Regions from separate parts of the Homo sapiens genome. Here region 2 is linked to region 1. The links come from fine-mapping of genetic effects on gene expression. A gene starts in region 1. The other region holds a variant in brackets. All regions are shown on one strand. Distances are between the middles of the regions. Region 1 holds the start of CNTN4-AS2 (CNTN4 antisense RNA 2). Region 2 has its middle 380 kb from the start of CNTN6.

Evidence for each region. PIP is the estimated chance that this variant, and not a neighbour inherited with it, causes the effect.
Region 2: its variant is fine-mapped to the expression of CNTN4-AS2 in lung (GTEx, PIP 0.99).

What each region holds. Positions count from the first base shown.
Region 1 is chr3:2,139,014-2,148,473 of GRCh38, forward strand. It overlaps CNTN4-AS2 (CNTN4 antisense RNA 2), which reads right to left and starts at 5,228. Exons shown (of 3, transcript NR_046555.1): 1 at 5,117-5,228. The region is part of intron 2 of CNTN4 (contactin 4); the gene reads left to right.
Region 2 is chr3:1,464,021-1,473,480 of GRCh38, forward strand. No RefSeq gene overlaps it. Among named protein-coding and RNA genes, the nearest start is that of CNTN6, 380 kb to the left of the region's middle. The variant T/C (reference allele first, on the strand shown) is at 4,109.

The sequences.
Region 1 (9,460 bases):
GATTTTTTCCAGGGCACTTGGGTAGTGCATCTTTTTTCCTCTAACAAATGGGGGAGCATGTGGCCTTCTGAGTACTGGGTTTGCTTAATGAATCAGGAGAGCCAGTGTTTATAAATATTCCTTTAAATGGCAGAGCGTAGATCCTGGTTTGTAGTCCCCTTAGTATATTTGTAATGTTTTCATCATACCCCTAGGCCAAAGAAAATACTCAACATTAAGTAGTTTTATTCATTAGGTAGGTAGGTTGAAACAAATGAATAAGAATTTATGTACTAACGTAATTTGAAAAACATATATATCATTTGAAAAAACACACAAATTGAAATAAAATATTTTTTTCTTAAATAACCACTATTGCTTACTAATGGGATATATCCTCCTGTTGGGCACAGAATGACTTCACATACATTGGAATTAGATTGGACACTGCTACCTGATTCCCATCCACATTGATTTTCATGACGCACATTTTATTACAGCAATGGCTATGAACCCAGCTTTGCAAAGATATAACATAATGAAAAGGAATGTAATGCAATCAAATATTGAAACTGCCAACTACCTCGAGCTATCCTGACAGTTGAGCATAGCTTGGGAGTGGTAGACATAGATTATCACTGAAATTCTAATGTGAGCCTGATGGCAACTTGAGTTGAAGGGCATTCTTGCAAGACTGCTTGGTTGGGGAGTGTCACACCAGCTGGATGTTTCCAGAACCAAGGGCCTGGGAAAAACTATGCCAGTGTGCACAGTGCACACTCTTCCTCAGTGTAGCCACTCTGCTTCTGATGTGTTTTGTTGTCTAAATCAGTCAGCAACCTATCACAGATGTGTGCATCTTTTCCTACCAATCCACAAAACCCACCTGATACGGTTTGTCTGTGTACCCACCCAAATTTAATCTTGAATTGTAATCCCTATAATTCCCACCTGTCATGGGGGGCACCCAGTGGGAGGTGATTGAATCATGGACACAGGTCTTTACTGTGCCGTTCTTGTCATAGCAAATGCGTCTCACAGGATCTGATGGCTTTATAAAGAGGAGTTCCCCTGCACAAGCCCTCTTGCCTGCCGCCATGTAAGATGTGCCTTTGCTTCTCCTTTGCCTTCCACCATGCTTGTGAGGACTCCCCAGCCATGTGGAACTGAGAGTCCATTAAACCTCTTTTTCTTTATAAATTACCCAGCCTCAGGTATGTCTTTATTAGCAGTGTGAGAACAGACTAATACACCACCTGAAATAATGTACCCCTTAAAATCCTTATTTATGGATTGATGAGAAAACAGAGCTTTCATTTTATATGATTAACAGAAGATAAGTGCCTCTGTTGCCCAGATCAGACTGTCTTAGTTCATTCAGGCTGCTATAACAAGTTACCATTTTCTGGGTAGCTCCTAAACAACAGAAATTTATTTCTTACAATTCTAGGGTCTTGGAAGTCCAAGATCACGGCAACCTCAGACACTTTTGGTGAGGGCCCACTTCCTGGTTCATAGATGGGCCTTCTTGCTATGTTCTCACATGGGTATAGGAGGTAACAGAGCTCTCTGCAGCCTCTTTTATAAGGGCGCTAACCCCATTCATGTCCTAATTACCTCCCCCAAAGCCCCAACTCCTAATAGCATCACCTTGGGTATTAGGATTTCAAGATATGAATTTTGGGGGAACATAAACATTCAGACCATAGCATAGGCCAATTAAGAACTAGGTATATGTAAAAGCATGGCTCCTTTTTTGGTACAAAGCTGGTGTATGCCTCAAAATTTATATTTTGCACTCAGAAAAATTCTTCCTTTTATTCCCTGAACTGCTTGTTCATGTGATCTCTACTTCTGTATGTCCAGGTCTTTGATATGTGTATGAGTTGACTGTTTCATTGTGTCGGAACATCTTTTGATTGTGTCAAGAGTTCCAGCTTCTTTTCTTTAAAGATCCTGTTTTATAATCTGCCAGCCTGACCACACTCAGCATACAGTCTTCAAAGTTACAGGTTATGTGAAACTTTCAAATGAGATATTACTTACTCCTGTTCTTCAGCTGGAATATCAGTTGCTGGGGGAGCTGGAGAAACAATTCCCAAAATGAAGAGCACCTTAGCATTTCTACAATGTTGTCATTGCAGGGTATTGTGATAGGCAGAATGCTGGCCCTGCCCCAAAGATGCCAGTGTCCTAATCTCTAGAACCTCTGAATATGCTACCTCACATGGCAAAAGGGACTCTGCCAATATGATGAAGGTAAGGATCTTAAAATGAGGAAAAAATTCTGGATTATCCTAGTGGACCTAATATTTTATAAGTGTACTTGTAAATGAAAGAGAGGGGCAGGAGTTGTGATTATGTGATTGCTGGCTTTGAAGATGAAAGAGGACCATAAGCCAAGGATCAAGGTCAGTCCCTAGAAACTGGAAAAGCCAAGAAAACAGACTCTCTGATAGACCCTCCAAAAGGAACAGGAAGGAAGCCCTGCCCAGTCTTAATTGTAGCCCAGTGAGACCCATTTTAGACTTCTGATTTCCAGAACTGTAAGATAGTAAATGTATATTGCTTTAAATTACTACATTTGTGGCAATTTGTCACATCAGTAGTAGGAAATGAATACAGCTATAAAGTGGAAGAAACCATAGAAAGTTCACTGAGCCTTTTGAGATTAATCTTTAACTCATATTCTAAAATCATATAGCTCCCTGAGTGTCAAACTGATAACTACATAATCACACTTTCACTGTTCTCAGGTTTACTACAAGCAGAATTACCCCATACTGGTGTTCAGGCAGATGAATTCTCACTATGAAATACTTTTTAATTGGCGTTCTTATGATTGCCTCCAAAATGTTTAAACCTTTTGACAGTTGCATCCATTTTATGAATCCATCTTCAGTAATAAAGATTGAAATGCTCTAAACCACCAAAAATTAGTGGCTTAATCAGAAACTGAGGGTGGTTCTATAAATCCAAAGCTGCTGGTCATTAGACCTCACTACCATCATTATGTATTTCTTCATCCTGATGCATCTCACATTCATTTTTTGACACGTTAATGATTTCTGTCGTAGGCATATTAACTGTCCACATGTAAATGTGATGGACACTGCTTTGGTTTAGCATGGGGCTATTTCGATTGGTCATACAGCCAAAGAAGGAAGTAAAGGATGTAAACAGTGTGGGTGCTTATATTTTTTTCCAATATTTGTGGAAGCATCTGTTTCTACATATGACTGGCACAAATGATATCTTTTTGTAAAATATTTCATAATTTCTCCAAAATATACCAGCTTTCTGGTTTTGTTTTTAGAGCTAGAGACTTTGTCTGCTCTCCTGACTTTTTGATATTCTTTCTTTCCTTTTTTTTTCTTTCTTTTTTTTTTAAAGATGGCATCTCATTCTGTCGCCCAGGCTGGAGTGCAATGGCATGATCTCAGCTCACTGCAACCTCACCTCCCAGGTTCAAGAGATTCTCCTGCCTCAGCCTCCCCAATAGCTGGGATTACAGGTGCCCGCCATCATGCCTGGCTAATTTTGTATTTTTAGTAGAGATGGGCTGGTCTCGACGTCCTGACTGCAAGTGATCTGCCCGCCTCGGCCTCCCAAACTGCTGGGATTAGAGGCGCAAGCCACTGTGCCTGGCTGATATGCTTTCATTTTTCACTCCCTTTTTAATCTTCCCCTCCATTACCAGTTAACAAACTACTACAGCTGCCTCTGCAAATGATAGAAGAACAAAAATTAGGAGGAGAGGGGGCTGGAGGAGGAGAAGAAAGAAGCAGAGAAGGAGAAGGACTTCATAGAAACTACGGCTGCTTTCAGGCATATAATGTGAGATCTTGAGAGAGAATTAAGGAGTGAATTTCCACGTAACTTTCAAAGATTGTAAATAGGCTGCCTCTATTTTTTGCAATTGCCAGGCAATGACAGTGTACTTTACTTCTACTCTCCTCTGAAGGAGCAAAATGAGTGCTCTATGGCCTTAACCTCTATTTCTCTCTTAACTGGATTCAAACGTATGTCATGCTTTGAGCCTTCATTACGTAAGCGATTTTTCTCAAGGTCACTGGGAGCACCACGTTCACTGCCTCTGGATGGTTCACTGTACTGCCGTGCAGCCTTGCTGACCATTTCATGATTTGGGGTTCATGTTCATTTTATAGACTGGATTTTTTTCTGTTTTACGTTTCCCATTTTCTTTGTTACTTAGAATTAACCATGACCAGATCAATTAATAAAATAGTTCAGGTTGTCTTATTCTATTTGTGCATTTGGTTTGCAGTTACCTTCACAAATATTCTGGTGGCTAATGAAGTTAAACCAAAGTTTGTCAATCTGATTTTACATAAGCTGTGTGCCAAAACTGTGTTAGGTTCAATAATGCTCATTTTCTTGTTTAATTTTCACAACAACTAAGAATATTATCAGATTCATATTCTCCTTAGATAATTAATAATTAATCACATTATTATTCTCCTGAGAAGGAGGTGATACTATTCTCGATTTAGACATAAAGAATCTTAGGCTCAGAGAATCACCAGCAGATTGTAATTTTGAGCCTAGATCATCAATGTCTAAATTCTTGCTCCTCTTATTATACCATTCTACTAATTTATCAATGATAAATATTTGTTAAATGCATGTTGTGTGCTAGGCATTGCACCCTGTTCTTTATTTACAAACATATGAGTTATTATTATCTCTGATTTGTAGATGAAGAAATTGAGTTTAGAGTTAAATGATTGCCCAGGATTATGTTGTTACAAGTGCAGAATCAGTAATCAAATTGCTGTGCTGTGTCCTCCAGGGCCTGAGTTCCTACATTGCCATGAGCCATTAAAGGTAAGATGCTAATTAAAGGTATCCATGACTAATTTTAATGGCTAACACAAGTTTGGTGAAATTGATTTACCATAATATTTTGGTTACTTTTTAGGGCTACTCAGATACACATACTTGAACTGTAACAGCAAATAGTGAGAGGGGAAGTAAAGATTCTGAGCCTCCTTTCTGGGTTTACAGCAATATTTTGAACTAAGAAGATGAAGTAGAATTAGACATGAGCAAAGCTCCATCCCTTTCTTCTGCAGGTGAGAAAGAAATAGAGGGTGTAGGAGGTAAGCATACCTACCTAGTAAGCCTTCATGATTTAGGTATCTGGAGCAGGTGGGACTGGAGCAATTGCCATGAAGTTCACAATTTTAGTGTGGCCTGTGATCTGTTTCTTTGGCTACAGCTTACATATCAGGCCTGGGGATTTTTCTGGATTCTGAAGGTTCTAGCTTCCAGCCTTGAAATTATTCTCCTACTTGTAGGTCAGTAAAACAAGCGTTTCTTTACTTGAAAGTTTTAAGTCGACAGTTGCCATGATAAATCACTCCCACTGATAGTGTTTTAGACTTTGTTGGTTCTACCTTACGGGATTTTCATAGAGTTTCTAAAAGAGAAAGACAAGCACTAGAGTGAAGAATTGTTCTTATTGTGGAAGAATCATCAACCTTGGCTGGACACACAGATCAAGGGGTTCAGGGATGGGTGGCAAAGGATCATTGAGAGGGTTACATGTGACCCTTGCCTAACTATAGTAGTTAATTCAACTCTGCCTACACAATGACACGGATTACCGAGGATATGACTTGTATTATACTCATCCCTCTGACCCCACATCCTAATGTTAATAATGATTCTTAAACCTGGAATTGAGAACTCAAATATAAACCAGTGCCCAGCACATAGCAAGTCATCAATTAAGTTTATTGAATTAAATTAAATATTGGAATTGTATCTGTCAAAGCCATATCAGCTCTAAGCTTCTTAAGAGAAAAATCTGCCCAGAATTTCTCAGGAGGGATTTCTCAACATCGAAGCTGTCCTGTTCATATTGGATTTATTGTACTTACATAAACAGGAATACACGAGCAGGGAAGATCAGATCAGTTACCACAATAAGGGTTTTGTACCATGATATACATCATTTTCGCTCCCCTAGGAAAGCACTGCTGATGAAAACAATTTTGGAGGGAGGTGGTCTCAACAGAGTAGATGTTCAGGTGGAGGTTATCTCTGGTGCTCTGGGCTTCTTATTCATAATTTTCTCTTATGAAAGAGAGTGGTTTTCAACTTCACAATTCCTTTGCTCATTTGGAAATATAGTAGCAGAAAGATGAAGAGAGTTTGTGACCCACAACTAAAGTCTGTGTTCTCTTGTCACTTCATCAAATTAGTTCTGGTGGCATTTGGTTCCCCCCCAGAAATAAATCACTGTTAAATGATTCTTTATAAAGCAGTCCACACATTTATCATACCACAGTGATCTGAACCCATTTAGGGAATTATAAGCTACAGTTGGTCATGTTGCAGGCCTAGCAACTCTGGCCTTGTCACATTGCATCTCTCTCCACTCCCTGTGCTACCACTAATCCTTCAGGACTGAGATTCAAGGCTTTGCTAGTAAGAGGCTTGGAAATAATCATATAAAACATAATAGTGTGGCAAGGTGAGATCGAGCTTTTAATTTTTTTAAGTTCACAGAGAGCAAGAAGACAGATAGGAAAGGACCGGCAGATTGGGAAAAATCAGGAATAAGATGAAATATCCTCAGAACTTTAGCTTTTATGATTCCACCTCACATTCAGTTTAATTATGAAATTTACTGGCAGTGACAATTGGCTTTTGGCATAAATTAATCATGCCAAGCATTATACATGAAATGAAATTTCAATCCTATTTGTTGAACATTTTCTAAGAGCTTGGCAATCTTGCCCAGCACTTTACGTAGGGTTTCTCCTTATCTACCTTATGAAATATGTTATTATTATTCCCACTTTTAATATGAGAATATTTGGGGATTAGAAGGCTTAAGTAATTTGACAAAGGTCATATGGGCTAGCATAATAGACTAGAAAACAAACTCAGGATGCTGTAATTACTACACTGGAATCATTCTTAGTTTTTTTTTTTTAAATGAAGTTGGCATTAGTTTTGTTTTTTAATCTTTAATACTTTTATCTGAGAATTGATAATTAACCATTTTAAGAAAATAGTTACATAAATTTAGAAATCATTTGGAAAACAGGTAAAATTGCTACATTATTTCAATTTATTTTATTTTTAAAATAAATGATATTTTTTATCTATATTTGAGGGCTATATGAGAACCTAAGACTTCTATTGATGTTAATTATTGACTTTTATTTACTGTAGTTTTAGTGAATAATTTAATTGACTTCTATTAATTCAGTCATCATATGCTAAACCTAGAGTAACTGCTGTTAATATTTTTTTTTTTAGCTACTACAAATTGAAGTATTTTTGATTAGAGTAAAATTTATTTCTAAAGGTAACCTGAGTAATATCTCTATGTTGTAGATAGATATTACTATCTATAGTAATATCTATGCATATAGTATCTATGTAGTAGCTTTCCAATTTATTTTGCTATTATCTAAAATAAGAAATACATTTTATATTGTTCCAGTAAATGCACACATATAAACACATATATATGAAATTGATACTTCATAAAATATTAGTTACCCTTATTATAATCAGTGCTCACTTGATATTTTACATTTTATCCCATTGTAAAATAGATACTGGTCATGACTCACAGTATTGATTTCATAACTCCCTAATGGTTGTAGCCTGCAGTTTATCATTTGTTCAAATGTAGTGTGGTGGGAAAGAAAGATGATATGACTCTTCAGACAGAGAGGTCTGGTCCCTACCCTGATATGTGTCAGTTATATGTCACCTTACCTATAAAATGGTGATTATCAGTACTTCTCAGGGGAGTTGTAAAGCCTGGTACCTAGTAGATAATTAGTAAATATCAGTTTCTTTTGTCTTTAGAGCTCACACTTCATTCCATAGTTTTTTGTTGTTGTTTTGTTTTGTTTTTTTGAGACGGAGGCTCACTCTGTCGCCCAGGCTGGAGTGCAGTCGTGATCTTGGCTCATTGCAACCTCTGCCTCCTGGGTTCAAGCGATTCTCCTGCCTCAGCCTCCCGAGTAGCTGGAACTATAGGCACTCACCACCATGCCCAGCTAATTTTTGTATTTTTAGTAGAGATGGGGTTTCATCATATTGGCCAGGATGGTCTTGATCTCTTGACCTCGTGATCCACCCACCTTGGCCTCCCAAAGTGCTGGGATTATAGGAGTGAGCCACTGTGCCTGGCCTCATTCCATAGTATTATAGAAAATGTCGAACTGTTTAAGCATTCCAGCACTTTATTTTTTAATTGTTATTATTTTTCTACCCTCAGCATGCATCAGAGGAGCATTCCAGCCCTTTAGTTTGGATTTTCTTGCTATTTCTGATTTTAACTATGTGTGTTCTTCATATCTTGGACTAAAAAATAAAAACAAATTAAAAATAGCAAAAAAAAAAATTTGCAGTAATTTTAACAGACCAACATTAAGTACTCTGGAAGCCAGACCAGAAGCTAGGGGCTCGTTAATTTTTATGTATCATCAATGGAAATGACTTTTATTTGTTAATTATTTTTTATGACCACCTATTGTAACATCTTCCAACACATATTTCCCCCTCTTTCCCGTCCTCCACTCTTTAACCTTCCTTGCCCATTTTTTGTAGAGATGCCAGTGAGGTCTTTCTCAGTCAGTGCTTCAATCCCATTATTTCCCATCTCAACAGGCTTCACTGGCTCACCATTATCTTTCATATTAGTCACAGGCTCCTCAGCCTGAATTGAGGCCTTTATGACACAATTCTAGTCTACCTTTGGAGATGTGCTTCCTTTCAGTGTCCTCTCTGTATTTCATACTTACTGCTTTGATCAGACAAGATGGCCTGTCTTTTTCCAAATGGATCTCACAATTTCCAGGCTCTGTGTATTTGCTTATGTTGTATCCTCTACCTAGAAGTCTTTTCTCCTGGTCCATCTGTCCTCATTAAAAACTCCACTCCTGTTTTCAAATTCCTTGTCTGTTTCATCGTGACTCTTCTAATTGATTCTCTTTCACTCCCACACTACTTCTATTGATGTTGATTTCTCTGAAGCTGGCTCCTAGTGCCTTTTTTCTTCTTAAGGCATGATAGTGTGTCTCAAGTTGGAATGATTTCATGGCTCCCATATGGTTGATTGGTTGTGGGACTTTATCGCTAATGATAATTCAGAAAATAGTAGTAGGACTAATTGCAATTCTGCAGATTTCACCTTAAACATATGCTGCTTCTTGGGCTGTGGAAGTTGGACACATTGAGATAAGATTATTCAGAAAAACAGCAAGGCCGGGCGCAGTGGCTCCCTCCCATAATCTCAGCACTTTGGGAGGCCTAGGTGAGAGGGTCGCTTGAGCCCAGGAGTTTGAGAGTAGCCTGGGCATTATAGGGGTACCCTGTCTCTACAGAAAATAAAAAAAAAAAATTAGCCTTGGTGGTGTGTGCCTGTAGTCCCAGCTACTCAGATGGCCGGGGTAGAAATCACTTGAGCTCAGAAGACACAGGTTGC
Region 2 (9,460 bases), 670 kb before region 1:
CCATTCTGATGTATTCAAGTTTAATTTTTGAACTATAAAAAAATCTATTTCCATGTCACAGTGTTTAAGAATATATCAACAATGTACATTATGTCAATCTTATCATTTGAAAATTATTTTAAAATAAGACACAAATATTAGCTAATGCACATTTACTTTTCCCTTTCTGACCTTAATATATTTAGTTATAAATTCTAATCTCTATAAAACCATTACCATAACTAAGAAATATCAGCCAAACATTATATGAAAATAGTTTTTTTTTAAGACTGTCAGTTGATAACGGAAAAGAAAGGAGCAAGAGTGTTATTGAGAAGTTATATTACTGCACAAAGTAGAGGATTGCTTTGTGATAGATTCTCTTTGAATCTGAGAAGTCATTATTTCTAACAGTACATTTCAGATAACACATGCAATTAAAATGTCTTCTTTAATTATCACTAAAGAAAATTATTTCAAAGGACAGCAGCCTATAGAGGTACTTTGCCATGACAGACAAACTTAACAAAAAGGATGAAGAAAGAAGAACGCAATGGATAAGGAATGTAAACAAATTTATGAAAGAAATAAAATAAAGGGTGGCAAGTGAATTAGCAAGGTGGAATAAGTAACAACTAAAAGCCTACAGGATATTGACGTAGGAGTGGGAACTAAAAACGAAGGAAAACAGAATTAGTTTTGAGTGTTACATGGCGGATGAACCACATAATCCTCACCCACTCTGAGCAACACGGAAATGATGGTCTATCTTATCTCCATCTGGCAGGAGAGAGGAGGGATAGTTTCTAGAGATACAAAAAAAAAAAAAAAGATTTTTGACCTCAGGCCCGCAAGTACAGTGAACGTCTGGGGTAAAGTATGAGTTTAAAAAAGGGCGGAGATACAGAAGAGTCTCAATGCCAAATTGTAGAACCCTGCTCATAGGACTCTAGAAAAGGTTGACAAAACCATGCCCCCAAGCCCTCCTTTTTTTCTTTCTTTCTTTTCTTTTTTTTTTTTTGAGACAGGGTCTCACTCTGTTGCATAGACTGGAGTGTAGTGGCACAATTTTGGGTGACGGCAACCTCCGCCTCCCAGGCTCAAGCAATTCTCCTGCCTCAGCCTCCTGAGTAGCTGGGATTACAGGTGCACACCACCACACCCCGCTAATTTTTGCATTTTTAGTAGAGACGGGGTTCTACCATGTTGGTCAGGCTGGTCTCGAACTCCTGACCTCAAAAGATCCACCCGCCTCGGCCTCCCAAAATGCTGGGATTACAGGCGTGAGCCACCGCGCCCAGCCGCCGTCCTCTTACCATAAGCATTAAGGCAACAGAAAACTAGAAAAATGTTCTCTGGAAGAACTGAATAATTACAGGGAAACAATCTTTGCATACTCTCATTGAGAGTCCAGCTGATTGTGCAATGACTCAGCAGTGAAGTCCACAGAACCACAAATACCCCCTTTGCCCATCAGTCTTCAACCTTTTAACCAGGTTTTTATTCTTTCATTCTTACATATGTACAGACACGTAGACAGCTGATGAAAGCCTTCAATGTCGGGGAAAAACAACTACCAGAAAATGGAGGGCAAAAAAGATACAAAATAAGGTAAGGCTAACATTTTCAAAAACCTCAAATTTATGTCCTCAAACAAGTAAGAAAATGTATTGGGTTAAGAGGACAGTAAGAGAGAAAGAGAAAGAAAGAATAAGTCAAAGAAAAAAGATAGCTCTTATAACTTAAAATTGGATAATCAAAATAAAATTTGGGCAGCAAAGTGGAATAATAGTATAACAGTTGAGGAATATCCCAGAGTAGAATAAAAAGATAAATAAATGAAAGATACTGGAACAGTATGAGAAAATCAAAAGGTAATTACAAAAGATTTGATATTTAGATAACAGAAATTTTAGTAAAGGAAATAAAAGCAAAAGAATTATATATTTTTCTAAAAAGTGGAAATGTTCCAGATTGAAGGACTGATGGGATTAGCTGAAGATAAACCTGCATTATGAAATTTCAGAATTCTAGAGATTAAGAAAACTTCTAAATATTTTCTGCATGGACTGAATTGTGTCCCCCAAAATTCATATGTTGAAACCTTAACCCCCAATGTGACAATCTTTGGAATAAGGAAGTAATTAAAGTAAAACGAGGTCATAAGGGTGGGGCCTCAATCGGATAATATTGGTGTCTTTATAAGAATAGACATCAGAAAGCTTGCTCTTTCTCTTCTCCATGTGAAGAAACAGCAAGAAGGTGATGGTCTGCAAGACAGACAGCCCTCACTAGAAACCAAATCAGCTGGAACCTTAGTCTTGGACTTCCCAGCCTCCAGAACTGTAAGAAATCAAGAGCTATTGTTTAGGTCACTCAGTCTTTAGTATTTTGTAATTTTAGTCCCAGCACACTAATACACTTTCATAGAGGAAAAATAATCACATGCAAAGGATAGGGATCAAAATAACATCAGACTTTCCAACAGTAACTTTGGATGCCAGAATACAATACAGCAACATCTTTAAACATTGAGAGATAAGTGACTCTGAACCTATAATCATAACCAGATATGGGGTTATCGACTAGAATCCAGACTGGGGTTTTCCAGAGTAAGTGGACATGCAGCAAGCAATTAATCTCCATCAGTTTAAGTTTAGGGTATTTTGCCATAGCAAAGCTAATGTATTGAAAATTTATGTCAGATAATTGTATGTTCTAGTCACTTTAATATTTCTAGTCACTGTAATATTTCCATTTCTGACATAAGGTGTACCACCCAGTACCATCTCTCCCTATTTCTAACAAATATGTAGCACTCTCACATAAAGTATCTTAAAAGGCAACTTTAAATCAAATCATGTACTTTCATTCTACACTTTATTGGAGATCTAATATCTGGACATGCCCAACAATCCCTCAAAGTTCCTCAGATTTTCAGTTAATGCTTAATTTTTTATTGTATCCAAGGTATTCCCTTTTGGATAGGGATACAGTGATCCCAATCCGCCTTTGAATAGTTTATTTGTTTATGTATTTATTCATTTATTTTTGAGACAGAGTCTTGTTCTCCACCCAGGCTGGAGTGCAGAGGTGCAATCTCAGCGTCCTGGCTCAAGTGACCCTCCCACCGCAGCCTCCTACGTATCTGGCACTAGAGGTGCATACCACCATGCCTAGCTAAATTTTGTATTTTTTATTGAGATGAGGGTCTCACCATGTCACCTAGACTGGTCTCGAACTCCTGAGCTCAAGCAATCCCCCTGCCTAGGCCTCCCAAAGTGCTGGGAGTACAGACATGAGCCATCATGCCCAGCACCTCCCTCTCACATATTTGATACTTGATTAAGAAACTTGAACTCACTGTGCAGCTTAGCAGCTTATAATTTAGCTATTGCTTAGTTAACTGTAGTCTTGTTTGAATGATATACTATTTCGTCAGTACTCTCAACTATTTTAAGTTTGCTCAAGGAAGAGACAATAGGTTTTAATTTCTTTTCAGACATTAACACAATTTTAAACACAATAGGTAGGCACAAAATAGGCACTTACTAAAGGTTTGCTCAATAAATTATGTCTTCCGCAGGGTGCTGTGGCTCACGCTTGTAATCCTAACACTTTGGGAGGCCAAGGCAGGTAGATCACTTGAGGTCTGGAGTTGGAGACCAGCATGGCCAACATAGGGAAACCCTGTCTCTACTAAAAATACAAAAATCAGCCGGGTGTAGTGGAAGGCACCTGTAATCCCAGCTACTTGGGAGGCTTTGGCACGGGAATCGCTTGAACCTGGGAGGCGGAGGTTGCAGTGAGCCAATATCGTGCCACTGCACTCCAGCCTGGGCAGTAGAGAGAGACTCGGTCTCAAAAAAAAAAAAAAATAGATTATGTCATGTTCTCCACTAAGGACATGGGAGATCATGTTCATTTACCCAGAAAATACCATCAATGACTTCTGTGTTATAGATTATTAAATATTGTCAATATTTTGAGGAGGCTTCACCCTTTGTCCATGCATGAATCTGAATCATCTGACTTCACTGTCATCTGGTGTGACCTAGGAATGGAAACTAGTTTTAACACCAGCTCAGGCAGAATATAAATATGAAAGTAATTTCCTGAAAGAAAACTA[T/C]TGCATCCTAAGGCTAAATGTTAATGACTTCATATTTTCCAGGTTTATGCATTATCTCAGCCACATTTCCCTGTTAATTTATATATTATATAATGGTAGAGTGAGAGTAAACACTGGAGAGCACTTAGTCCAGCAAAGTATTTTTTGCATGAGATGGAGTGACGTGCCCAGAGTCACATGACTTGATAATGATAACAGAAGCAGTGGGGCCAGTGTAATCAGATTCCAGTGCATGTACCTCCCAGTGACCTAAGAGTTGGATGATGTCATTTCTCTTGTTGAGGTTTTTTTTTTTTTTTTTGTATGTAGAGATCGAGCGCCATGTCTATCACAAAGCATATGAGCTGATGTTTCCTGGACTTAACGTATATAACACTAAATTTCAGGAAAATAATTTAGCAAGGTAGCTAAATGCTTCTGTATATAGGAAATGCTGGGTACTGCACAGCGTAATCAAGACATTTTGTTTCTAAATCTAATTCTGCAAAATTTCCCTTCCATTTCCCCTTCTAATTTTCTATTAGAATAAAGCAATAAGGTAAAATATATTAATCAAAGTCATCAGTTCAGGAGAACAGGAACCCCTAGAATTATTCAAACCATCGACTTGGATGAGGTAGTTCACATTATTAAATTAATTTGAAGAGTCATTAATTAACTTCCTTGCATTTTTAAATTTCATAGTAACATGTTCAAGGATGATAGAGCATTGAACTTCATTAGCTGATTGTTTGACTCAGTATTTATAGAAGACTGCTACTTATTCAGAAATTCAGTTATTTGTAACACTGTTTTTCTTACTGTTACATTTTAATGAATCTCATGTCTTATTGTCAGACTCACTCACATTCGATAAAGGGTAGTGGTAGGAGCTATCTTTTATTTCTATTAATCTCTTTCCCGAGGTTCATTAGCAGGGAATTCTTTCCTGTTAGATCAATGGCAAAATCACCGTCTGAAGTCATTTTGCCTTGAGCAATAATCTGAACATCTTTCTTGGAAATGATCCGCGTGCCCACTGGAAACTTTGAGAAGTAGTTTTTAATTGCATTTTTGTTAGATTCTGGTGCTGCCAAGCCCTGTTTTGATGCCTGAGACAGTATAGAAACAATTTGAAATCCACAACATGGGAAGATTGTGGTGCCAGTCAAGCTGACTGCACATTAGCACCAATGTTCTTTACATACAGGTTTAATAATCAGAAGAAGAATCCTAAGTGTTTAATAATTGAACATGTGTTTAATATTTAAGCAGCCAGATCTTTCCAGTTGTTAAACTAATATTGAAGTAGGGTGAAAGCATTCTACTTACTGGCAACTCTCCATCTTACAAATATCTTTTGAAGTTCAGTACAGTATAGGGTCTATCACTATACCGTCTGGCGGACAGTGTTACTTATCATAACCAGGACCAAAGACAATGCAGAAGCTTTCTTCTTGTCATTACAGCCATGTGTAAAACTTATATGTGCAAAAACTATAGTCATAATTAATGATTTTTTTTAATCTCACATTTTATGTTTTTTTCTTTCTTTGTGGCTATTGAATGCAGGAATAGCTATCCTGAAAATGAAAAAGAAAATAAGGCAATGTTTACATCAGGTTATGTGCTGGGAATTATTTCACTTCTAACTAATCTTCAAATTGCAAAGGAGATAATTATTTACTTAAATACTTGTTAGCCCAGAGTTTTCCTGTACTGTCCACAGTGACTTAACAATTTTCCTTAAGGATTGTTACATATTGACAACACTTGTAGCCTTAGACTTCACAGCAGTGGCTCCACCCCACCTTCCAATTGACCTTGTACATTCTTGTTGCAAAAGATATGTTCAGTTTACTGATCACAAGGTATTTTGTATTGGAGCAGTTAATTTCACCTACGTGAATATGAGCCAGAGGGTTTTAAAAATCTTATATTTCTTCCAACAATACCTGTTCTTGATATTTCTGCTCGAAATTCTGATTTTAAAATGATAATCGTGACTTTGAAATTCACTTTATTTGATTGCAGCCTTATCTTTTCCACCAAGGATTTTAGGTGACTGCCATGCAACTTAGTTCCAGATGGCCTTGAATTTTCCTAGTATAGCTTCTTTTAAAATTTGCATGAGGAAATTAAAATGACTGTTTTGTTCTTGATGGATACTTCAAGGCAATCTTTTAGCAAAATCTCATACTTTTGCACAAACTTTTAAAAACTTTTAAGTTCAGAGGTGTAAGTGCTGGTTTGTTACATAGGTAAACTTGTGTCGGGGGGGTATGTTGTACAAGGCTTAATATTTGGGTGATAAATTTAAACTTTAAAAACAATTAAAGGTATCCCTTATAGACTAGCAGTTAAGTGTGGCTGCTCATTAGAAATACTTAGTGAACTTTGGGAGGCCAAGGTGGATGGATCACCTGAGGTCAGGAGTTCAAGACCAGCCTAGGCAACATGGTGAAACCCCATCTCTACTAAATTCAAAAAGTAGCTGGGCACAGTGGCGCATGCCTGTAATCCCAGCTACTCCGGAGGCTGAGGGAGGAGAATCACTTGAGCCCAGGTGGCGGAGGTTGCAGTGAGCTGAGATTGCACCATTGCACTCCAACCTAGGCGACAGTGTAAGACTCCGTCTCAAAAAAAAATAATAATAATAATAAATACTTAGTGAATTAAAGATGCCTGGGCTCCACACCCAGAAAAGCTGATTCAGTGTCTGGGGTAAGGTCCCATCACATCCGTATTTTTCTCTTTCCCACTGATTCTACTGCCTAGCACTGTGAACTGTTACACAATAACTGATGGAGAAGAATTTCATCTTTAATTTTTCTGTTTTCTTAATCATGTGAAAAGGCAAATATAAAATAATGAAACAAACAGTTCATGAAAAGAATTGGACAGCAGAGATCTTGAGAAATCTTAGCCAATCAATACGGTCGGATAAGATTTATGAGGTACGAGGCCATGTTAGCCGTGACTATTCTCCTTCTCCTTGCATCATCTTACTAACTCTAAACACTGTGTGATATTTGACTTTGATTCTTTAATCCTTTTTAATGTTGTAATATTTCAGGACTCTTATATCAGGAAATGCTTACTTAAATTTTCTCCAAATCCCTCACGTCATATAATATTTGCTTCTTACATCTCTTGTGTTGTAGGATTTGGGAAAATTCTATTTTTCGCCACTGGACTTTAATTCTATGAAGTTGCACCTCATCTTTCCCTCCTAGAGATAACGTGCAGCTTACATGATGACTTATGAATCCATAAATGATGTTCATTTGTTTCTGCAAACTGAAAATATATTTACACTTTGGTACTTCTCTTAGGTAATCAGAATGAAAATTTCCTAGGGAAGAATTTTCATTTAAGTGGCTGGAGAAAATATTTTGCATCAGTGAAGATGTAGTGAAGAGCACTTGATAAAATACATTGTCACATTTATGTCTAAGGTTTTTCCTGTCTAATTAAAACAGCAGAGCAGGGGTGTTCACTTACTGTTTCAACTTGCCAAATGATTCTGAAAGTCTGTGACCTGTGAGTATATTCTTTCTTCTTTCTGCTGCGTGAATTGAAACCCTGTGTGCAGGGTAAGGAGTGAATCCCACTTAGATAGTGACTAGCGAGCAGCAGCAATAAACCTACACTAAGGCGTACCTTCAAACATACTTATTCTACTTCTTCTTTGCACTGTTAATACTGGCCTTTCCTGACTTCAGCCTGGATTATCCATTGCCTGACTGGGAAAGGCAGATTGTTAGAACATAAATGAAAGAAAGAGTCAGTGCTCAGTTTCTGAGCTCCAGAATAGGCCCTTGAAGCTCCTTTTGAGGGCAATCTTTGTGAAACAAAGCTTTTAATTTGCCAGACCCTGGCTCTCTAAAAAGAATGAACACATTTATATCTTTATAGATATAAACTGGAGTTTCTTCCACAATGTAGGAAAGCCTCCTGTTCTACAGAATCACCCCCTAAAATAATAAGATTTTTTGAAAGAATAAGATGGAACAGTAAAAACCTACGTAACTTTGTAATCAAAGAACTAATAAAAATAAAAATAATCCTAACGTAAGTAAATATTAATGTAGTGAAATTTCCACTGACCTTGGCACCTAACATGATAGTTGATCAAATTTTTATAATATAAAGTTCATACCTCTTTCTCCAAGATAAATTTCTTTGGAGACATTTACTTCCAATTGAGACCAGTTTTATCGAAATAAACAACATAGACCTCTGCATAAATCAATTTTTTTCTAAACAGAGAGAAATGTCTTTGCAGATTCATTTGCATGTGCAGTTTTAGCAGAGAAATTGTGGAAAGTTTAGTGGTTCTCGAAGCCACTAAACAGCCACAGTTGGCACAAATGGAAATCACTTATGCAGTATTTTCTCTTTCCTGAAGGTTTTCTTTTTTAATTCTGGAAAAGCCTGTCTCAGATTACTTCAAAATATTAACATACTGAGAAAGTCAAATACCAATTAATGCAATTTCCACATTTTGCTGATATTCTTTTCTTCTGTTTGTTAATTCTATGTATATGTATATAGCTATGTATATGTATTTATATTTATATATGTATGTATGTGTGTATATATGTATGTATATTTCCATATGTATGTGTATCTGTATGTATATATATTTACATGTGTGTATATGTATGTATGGTATATATACACACACACACACACACACACACACACACACCCACCCATGCAGTATACACGTATGTCAGCTCAGTTCTTGCAAGAAGCAGACACTTCATTCAAGAAATTTACTGGAGGGAATAGACCTGTGAAGGAGAAACGGAGAAAGAGAAGGAGTAAGCAGGGAGAGTCTTTATACCACAAGTTAGGTTTGACACCTGGGAAGGGGAAAGAAAAGAAGAATTGGGCAGAAAGAGTCTCAGACCACAGCTCAGGTTTGAAAACTTCTCTCCCAAGCCAATGACGAGATCCCCGAACAAGCTACCTATGCAGAATCCTTCACTGGGCAGGAATGGGCTGGCACTGGTGCCCTCACTCTCCTCAGTCACTGGCTGGCTGAAGTGCGTGGGAGTTGAGGCCTCCACATTCTCTGGAGTAGCAGCTTGAGCTCTTAGTCAACTGGGCTCTCCATAGCAAGCTGTCTTGAAATGTCTGAGTGGCTCATCCTGATGGCTCCATTAACAAATATCCACCCAACTCACCTCCAGCACACATACATGCTTGCACACATTTTTTTCTCCAAATTGGAAGGCCCTGATTTAGAAGGACATAAAGAGTATCCATAAATACCTTGGAAAGCAGACAGAAGGGACATTTCTTGCTGGACAAACTAAGAAAAGGAGGTATGTGAAGAGGGTGCTTATAAAGCATCTTGAATCT